2 linked regions of the Homo sapiens genome follow. The protein of the gene in region 1 purifies or fractionates together with the protein of each later gene. This does not show direct contact. Each region holds a gene or a part of one and is shown in the gene's direction. Other genes may lie near its edges.

Evidence for each region. The genes of interacting proteins can lie anywhere in the genome.
Region 2: the proteins of KLHL13 (region 1) and VSIG10 fractionate together in Homo sapiens (co-fractionation; one large-scale study listed by BioGRID). This does not show direct contact.

What each region holds. Positions count from the first base shown.
Region 1 is NC_000023.11:118,106,811-118,110,310, reverse strand, and holds part of KLHL13 (kelch-like protein 13), read left to right. Parts: intron 1-3,500. UniProt on the Homo sapiens protein: Substrate-specific adapter of a BCR (BTB-CUL3-RBX1) E3 ubiquitin-protein ligase complex required for mitotic progression and cytokinesis.
Region 2 is NC_000012.12:118,066,012-118,069,511, reverse strand, and holds part of VSIG10 (V-set and immunoglobulin domain-containing protein 10 precursor), read left to right. Parts: intron 1-914; coding exon 915-1,135; intron 1,136-2,817; coding exon 2,818-2,873; 3' UTR 2,874-3,500.

The sequences.
Region 1 (3,500 bases):
TTAGCCCCAGCGCCCTGCATGGTTACATGGGGACATGAGTGTGCGTTACAATTCTTTATTTTCCTCTGTAAACTTGACATCATTAAGATTAAAAACATGCAAAGGAAAACCCAAGAGTTAATTGAAAACTCTTCTTAGCGTCCATGATATGAATTGGGTTTTAATTATCCTAACACAACCCCCCTCAGTATTATCTTTATATAACATCTTGACAGCCTTTTCCTTTCTAACTAAACTAAAACAACATGGATTTTCTTGTTCTTTACCAATACACAATTGGTGTATTTTCTTTTGTTTTTGGTAGAGATGAGGTCTCACTATGTTGCCCAGGCTGGTGTTGAACCCCTGGCCTCAAGTGATCCTCATGCTGTGGCCTCCCAAAGTATTGGGATTACAGGCATGAGCCACTGTACCTGGCCTGTTTTTTTTTCCTTCGGTTTTGTGGGGTTGCCAGTAATTACATGTCTCAAAGGATTTTTTCTGCAGTTTTCTTGCAGTTGAAAACTAGTCCTTGAAACTATTCTGCCAATTCATTCAACAAATACTTATTAAGTGCCTATTATATTCCAAGCATTGTGCTAGTCTAAACAAATAGAATCTCTGTCTAGTGCTCTTTCCATTACTTTGGGTCCTTCAAAGTGGAGCACATGTACTGATTGAGCAGGGTGGTGACAAGGTGGTGCTCCCAGGAGCCACAAAATAAAGCAGCTTGTATTTTCTTGAAGCATCTGTTTTACACAGAGATTTAGGAGAACATTAACTGGTAGCTATTTAAAAATCTTTAAACAAATTCAGATACATTCTGCCTTAGAACGCAATATTCATAGAAAATCTGAGGCAAACCCCAATATTTCAGAGAAAGTCTCTGCTTGCAAGGGCAGCTGTGGTAACCCTGAGATGACCCTTTGGAAAGCACTGAGGTGGTGCTGTACTGCCCGAATCTGTTCTTTTAGTCAAACACCCAAACATTTTCATAGCCGTAAATTCCCATGATGACCTGTGGGAAAGTTAATGGACATAAATGTTTTTCTCTGTTGCGCAATTTCAAGGGTACATGTTGGTTACCCTTGGTCTAATGGTCTAAATCTAAACATGTGTTGAGTTCTTACAGAGTTTTTAATGTTGGTGGGTAATGGCTAAGAGTGACTATGAAGGACCTGCCTAGGGAATGATATTTTCAGAATAGAGGTTATTAGGCCTGACGCAGTGGCTCACTCCTGTTATCCCAACACTTTGGGACGCCTAGGCGGGAGCATTGCTTGAGCCCAGGAGTTCAAGACCATCCTGGGCAACAAAGCGAGACCCTGTCTCTATAAGAACAAAAAAAAATTTAAAAATTAGCTGGGCATGGAGGCACACGCCTATAGTCTCAGCTACTCGAGAGGTTTAGGCAGGAGGATCCCTTGAGCCCAGGAGTTCAAGGTTGCCGTGGGCTACAATCACACCACTGCTCTTCAGTCTGGGTGACGGAGTGAGACCCTGTCTCAAAAAAAAAATCTAAAAAAATTTTTAAAAAAGGCTAGAGGTTATTAGAACACAAGGACCACAAACTTAAAGCAGCACAGTTCATGGTGTCAAAGCTTTGCCTTGTTCTGTGCACACTTGCCTGTCTCACTGATTTGAAGTTCACTTTTGCTAACTTTAAAGCTGCTTTCATTTACAGCATAGTATACAAATTGGTTTGTTAATTGCTGGCCACTGAAATAGTTAATACTAGAAGAAAGTTGTCAAGGATTAAGTGCTTTGAGGTTGATAAAAGGTTTCTACAGTTTGAGATGGTTTTGAAAATAGGCCAGCAGAGCATTGGAGGAATGCCTGTTACAACGTGATGGTTTAATTTGCTCCAGATGAGAAAGATGAAGAAGAAAAAGGCAAGTGAAGAAAGGGGGTGAAAGTAAATGGAGTAAGTCAAACACTAAATCTTTCAACTGATTTTCATTATTGCAGTCCCACTTTCATTGTTGTTGTTCCATGCCAGACATAGTTCACAGGGCCTGACATTGTTATATTGTTGTGTTACTGCTCAAATCTTGTAAGGACATGGGTATAGAGGATTGTGATTAGTGGATGGTCTTTATCGTCTACAGGTGAAGTGCTTTTACAGTCTATTCAGTAAAAGGAGATAAGAGTTTTGCTTGTAGTTTGTAGAGTTTTCTTTCTTGGTCCCACTTTTAAAAAAATGGTGATACATTTCTAAAGATCACTTCATTTCAACAAAGTTTTCTGTTCCACTCTTGGATGTTTCTTTTTTCTTTTAAGACAGGGTCTCATTCTGTCACTCAGGCTGGAGTGCAGTGGTGCAAAGTCAAGGCTCACTACAGCTTCAACCTCCCAAGTTCAAGTGATCTTCCCACCTCAGCCTCCCAAGTAGTTGGGACTGCAGGTGCATGCCACCACGCCTGGCTAATTTTATGTATTTTTTGTAGAGACAGGGTTTCACCATGTTGCTCAGGCTGGTCCTGAGCTCAAGCAATCCTCCTGCCTCAGCCTCCCAGTTTGCTGGGATTACAGACATGAGCCACTGCACCTGGCCTCACTCTCAGATATTTCTTAGTGGAAAGGCAGTAGAGCTTAATGGCTATGATCTTGAACCCTGGAATCATAGGCTTGGGTTCAAATCCTGACTGCCTTTTGTTGGGCAACTTGCTTCACCTCTCTGAGCCTTGTTTATCTCCCTTGTAAACTATCTCATCTAGTTTAAGGATTAAATTAATAATGCGTATAGAGTGCTAAGCACACTTAAGCCACATATGAAATATAACTATACTTATTATTATTTTCATAGATTTGTGGCTAAATTAGTTGATAACTTGGAGCATACTATAGGACCTTGGCCAATCATATATGAAGCAGAAATGTGAGGGGAAATTGTGTGTCTTCTTTGTTTATATTGTCTTAATCCTAGCTGGAATGCTATTTTTCGAATGTGCATCTCGTAAATGGTGAGTAGACTGTTTAGAAGTAACACTAGTTTTCTGGCAGACAAGAAAGTTTATGGTGAATGTTGGCTTATTACTTACTCAAATATGGCATCACATTGATTCCAAGAAAAATGTCAGTTTTTAATACAATTAGCCCAATATATATTTAAATGTGATACTGTTTGGGTTAATAGGATTTTAAATTTTAATATCCATTTTGAAGGAAAAGGGTTATGCAGGATAATGTATACTATGAACAATGTTATCTTTTAAACATGAAAACATTTGGTTTTCTGATAATCACAGGGGTCACACATTTTTCTGATTTATCTCTAATTGTTCCAGATTTTAAGTCCCCAAAGAAGAAAATACTGAAGCATTTGTAATAGTTAAGCCATTGGGAAGAGGTATAATTCTGTTGTGAATAATGTCTTCCTATGGATTTTGAGTTGTTATGGTTATTTCAAGTTTTTATCATGGTTACTGTAATAACAAATCAAATAATACCCTAAGAGAAGATAAAAGTTTGATAGTACCTTTGATAAATGAATGGATAAGTCTAAATGGAGTATTGAGAAC
Region 2 (3,500 bases), on another chromosome or scaffold:
AGAGGTTGCGGTGAGCCATGATTGTGCCATTGCACTCCAGCCTGGGCAACAAGAATGAAACTCTGTCTCAAAAAAAAAAAAAAAAAGAAGAAGAAGAAGAAGAAGAAATGCACAGTCCAGGCCGGGCACAACAGTGGCTCATGCCTATAATCTCAGCACTCTGGGAGGCCAAGGTGGTTGGATCACTTGAGGCCAGGCATTCGAGACCAGCCTGGCCAACATGTTGAAACCATGTCTCTACTAAAAATACAAAAATTAGCCAGATGTGGTGGCGCATGCCTGTAGTCCCAGCTACTTGGGTGGCTGAGGCAGGAGAATTGCTTGCACCCAGGAGGTGGAGGTTGCAGTGAGCCAAGATTGCGCCACTGCACTCTAGCCTGGGCAACAGCGCAAGACTCTATCCCGAAAAAGAAAAAAAAAAGAAATGTATAGTCTGAAATGCAAAGTCTGGCTGGGTAGGCAAGCTAGTGAGCTGGTGATAAATAAACTATAGCATGGACTCTAAATGCAGTCATTAATTTAGGTCTTTAGCAGGAGGGAGAGGACTTTACCTGGGTCTTCCAAAATGAGGAAGGGGAGAGATTTTGGTAAGTAGAGCAGAATGAGGGCATTTCAGAAAAGGAAAAACATTTGTCTACCTGCTGTAAGGGGACATGAAATGGTAGATGCCTGGGACAATATGGTCACCTGCCCAAGGAGCAGGGGAGTAATAAACCAGCATGAGATACCATCATCTGAAGCAATTTGTGGCAGCATCTCTGCGGTTACCACACCATCACCTCATTACTTCACCAAGCTGTAATTTTCCATATTACTAATGGGGTTGCAAAGAATCTAGTGTTTCCTATTCAGTGAGGGCTGAAGTTGGGAAAAATAAGAAATCTTCTTGATTATTTTTCCCCTTTGGAAATTAGGGGACAAAACATGGATGATGTCATGGTTTTGGTGGATTCAGAAGAGGAAGAGGAGGAGGAGGAGGAGGAGGAGGAAGATGCTGCAGTAGGGGAACAGGAGGGAGCACGTGAGAGAGAGGAGTTGCCAAAAGAAATACCTAAGCAGGACCACATTCACAGAGTGACCGCCTTGGTGAATGGGAACATAGAACAGATGGGAAATGGATTCCAGGATCTTCAAGGTAAGCTCTTTTTCCTTAAACAAACAAACAGAAAACAAACAAAAAAAGGCGCGTTGGCTCACGCCTATAATCCCAGCACTTTGGGAGGCCAAGGTGGGAAGATCACTTAAGCCCAGAAGTTCAAGACTAGCCTGGGCAACATGGTGAGACTCTGTCTCTACGAAAAAAAAAAAAAAAAAAAAGAAAAATTAGCCGGTCATGGTGGTGTGCACCTGTGTTCCCAGCTACTTGGGAGGCTGAGGATCACTTGAGTGTAGGAAGTCCAGGCTGCAGTGAGCTATGATCACACCACTGCACTCCAGTCTGGGCAGCAGTAGGAAACCTGCCTCAGAAAAAAAAAAAAAAAAAAAAAAGCCCACAAACCTCTGAACTGCTGCGGTGAGCTTCCCAGCAGGAAATCTCTAAGGGGTGAGTTTAGTTTTTTTAAAAGGCTGGGGAAGATAGCTAAACTTTAGTCTAGAACCTGAGACTACTATCAACTACCAACATGAAAATCAAATTGACAAACACTTATCAAGGTCCTGGTCTAGGGTAGGCACAATATTGGCATTGTGGGAGAACAGAAAATAGAGACTGGTAGTGTCTGCATGCAGGGAGCTTTACAAGACCAGTTCAGGCCAGGTGCGGTGGCTCACGCCTATAATCCCAGCATTTTGGGAGGCTGAGGCAGGTGGATCATTTGAGGTCAGGAGTTTGAGACCAGCCTGGCCAACATGGTGAGACCCCCATCTCTACTAAAAATACAAAAATCAGCTGGGTGTGGTAGGTGCCTGTAATCCCAGCTACTTGGGAGACCAAGGCAGGAGAATCACTTGAACCCGGGAGACGGAGGCTGCAGTGAGCCGAGATCGTGCCACTGCACTTCAGCCTGGGTGACAGAGTGAGACTCTGTCTCAAAAAAAAAAAAAAAAAGGCCAGTTTAGGGGAACAAACTAAAACCTGCAGGGGAAATGGAAACAGGAGCAAGATTGAACCAACACACTGAGAGAGCAGTAGAGGAGCTGTTGCAGGAAGATATTTGATTAATTGCCTGATGGACAACACATTTAAAAATTATAGGCACGGTTGCTCATGCCTGTAATCCCAGCACTTTGGGAGGCCAAAGTGGGTGGATCGCTGGAGCTCAGGAGTTCGAGACTAGCCTTGGGAACATGGCAAAACGTGTCTCTACTAAGAATACAAAAAATTAGCTGGGTGTGTGGCATGTACCTGTAGCCCCAGCTACTTGGGAGGCTGAGGTGGGAGAATCACCTGAGCCTGGGAAGTTGAGGCTGCAGTGAGATGAGATCGTGCCACTGCACCAAAATTTATAGGACCTCAGAGAAAGATAAGAGCCCGGAGAGGTGTGCTGGTCAGGGGAAGCTTTATGGAAGAGGTAGACATGAAGCAAGGCGTTAAGACGGCTGAGTTGGAATAAGCAGAAAGGAGAGAGGGCGTTTCAGGTGAGGGGAGGGGCGTGAGCTGAGGACATGAAGGGTGACTGGTATCAAGCATGCCTAGAGGTTCTGAATGTAGAAAACAGGTGAAAAGGGGAAAACACACGCTGCCCTACCTTCTCCATGAGATCCCATTCTGTGGCTCACCAGGAAAGGACTAGAAATCACTGAGATGATTGATGACTGACGGTGGAAATAGAATCACACTCTGATTACAAAGCATTGGGTTTATTTCCCCCCATACAGATGACAGCAGTGAGGAGCAAAGTGACATTGTTCAAGAAGAAGACAGGCCAGTCTGAAGAAGAGGATGGTCCATGGTTGTCTTGCTCTGAAAGCTTGGAGAGCTACATTGAAGACGAGCTCTTCATTCAGCTTTGACTCCACCTGCACCCCTGGCGGGGGCTTGCACTAACAATGTTTGGGTCTCAGCAAAAAACAAAACCAAGCACACACATCTTTCCTTCCATGTATTGAAAAACATTGGTTTGATTTGCTCTAAGTTTTCCCAATGATGTTTAAAAGCTTTGAGAAGGAAAGCTGCTTTGGTGTCTGAGGTGCCACTTCTGCTGTGAATCCTGGCTTTATCCAGGTTGATCTACTGTGATAGATGCTGATTTAGAGGGAACAGAGGTCAGGGAAGCACTGGGTCTTGGTGCCTTTTGCCGCTTTTTTTTTTTTTTTTTTTTTTTTTTGAGACGGAGTCTCCCTCTATTGCCCAGGCTGGAGTGCAATGGCACGATCTTGGCTCACCACAACTTCTGCCTCCCAGGTTCAAGCGATTCTCCTGCCTCAGCCACGGCACCTTGCAAATATCAGCTCCTTGGAACAGGTGAAGTTCCAGGTACCAATGCCAATCAGAGGAAGGCAGTTTGGTTCAGGCTTTGGAGTTAGAAACACCTGAAGTTGAATCTGGGCTCTGTTGCTTC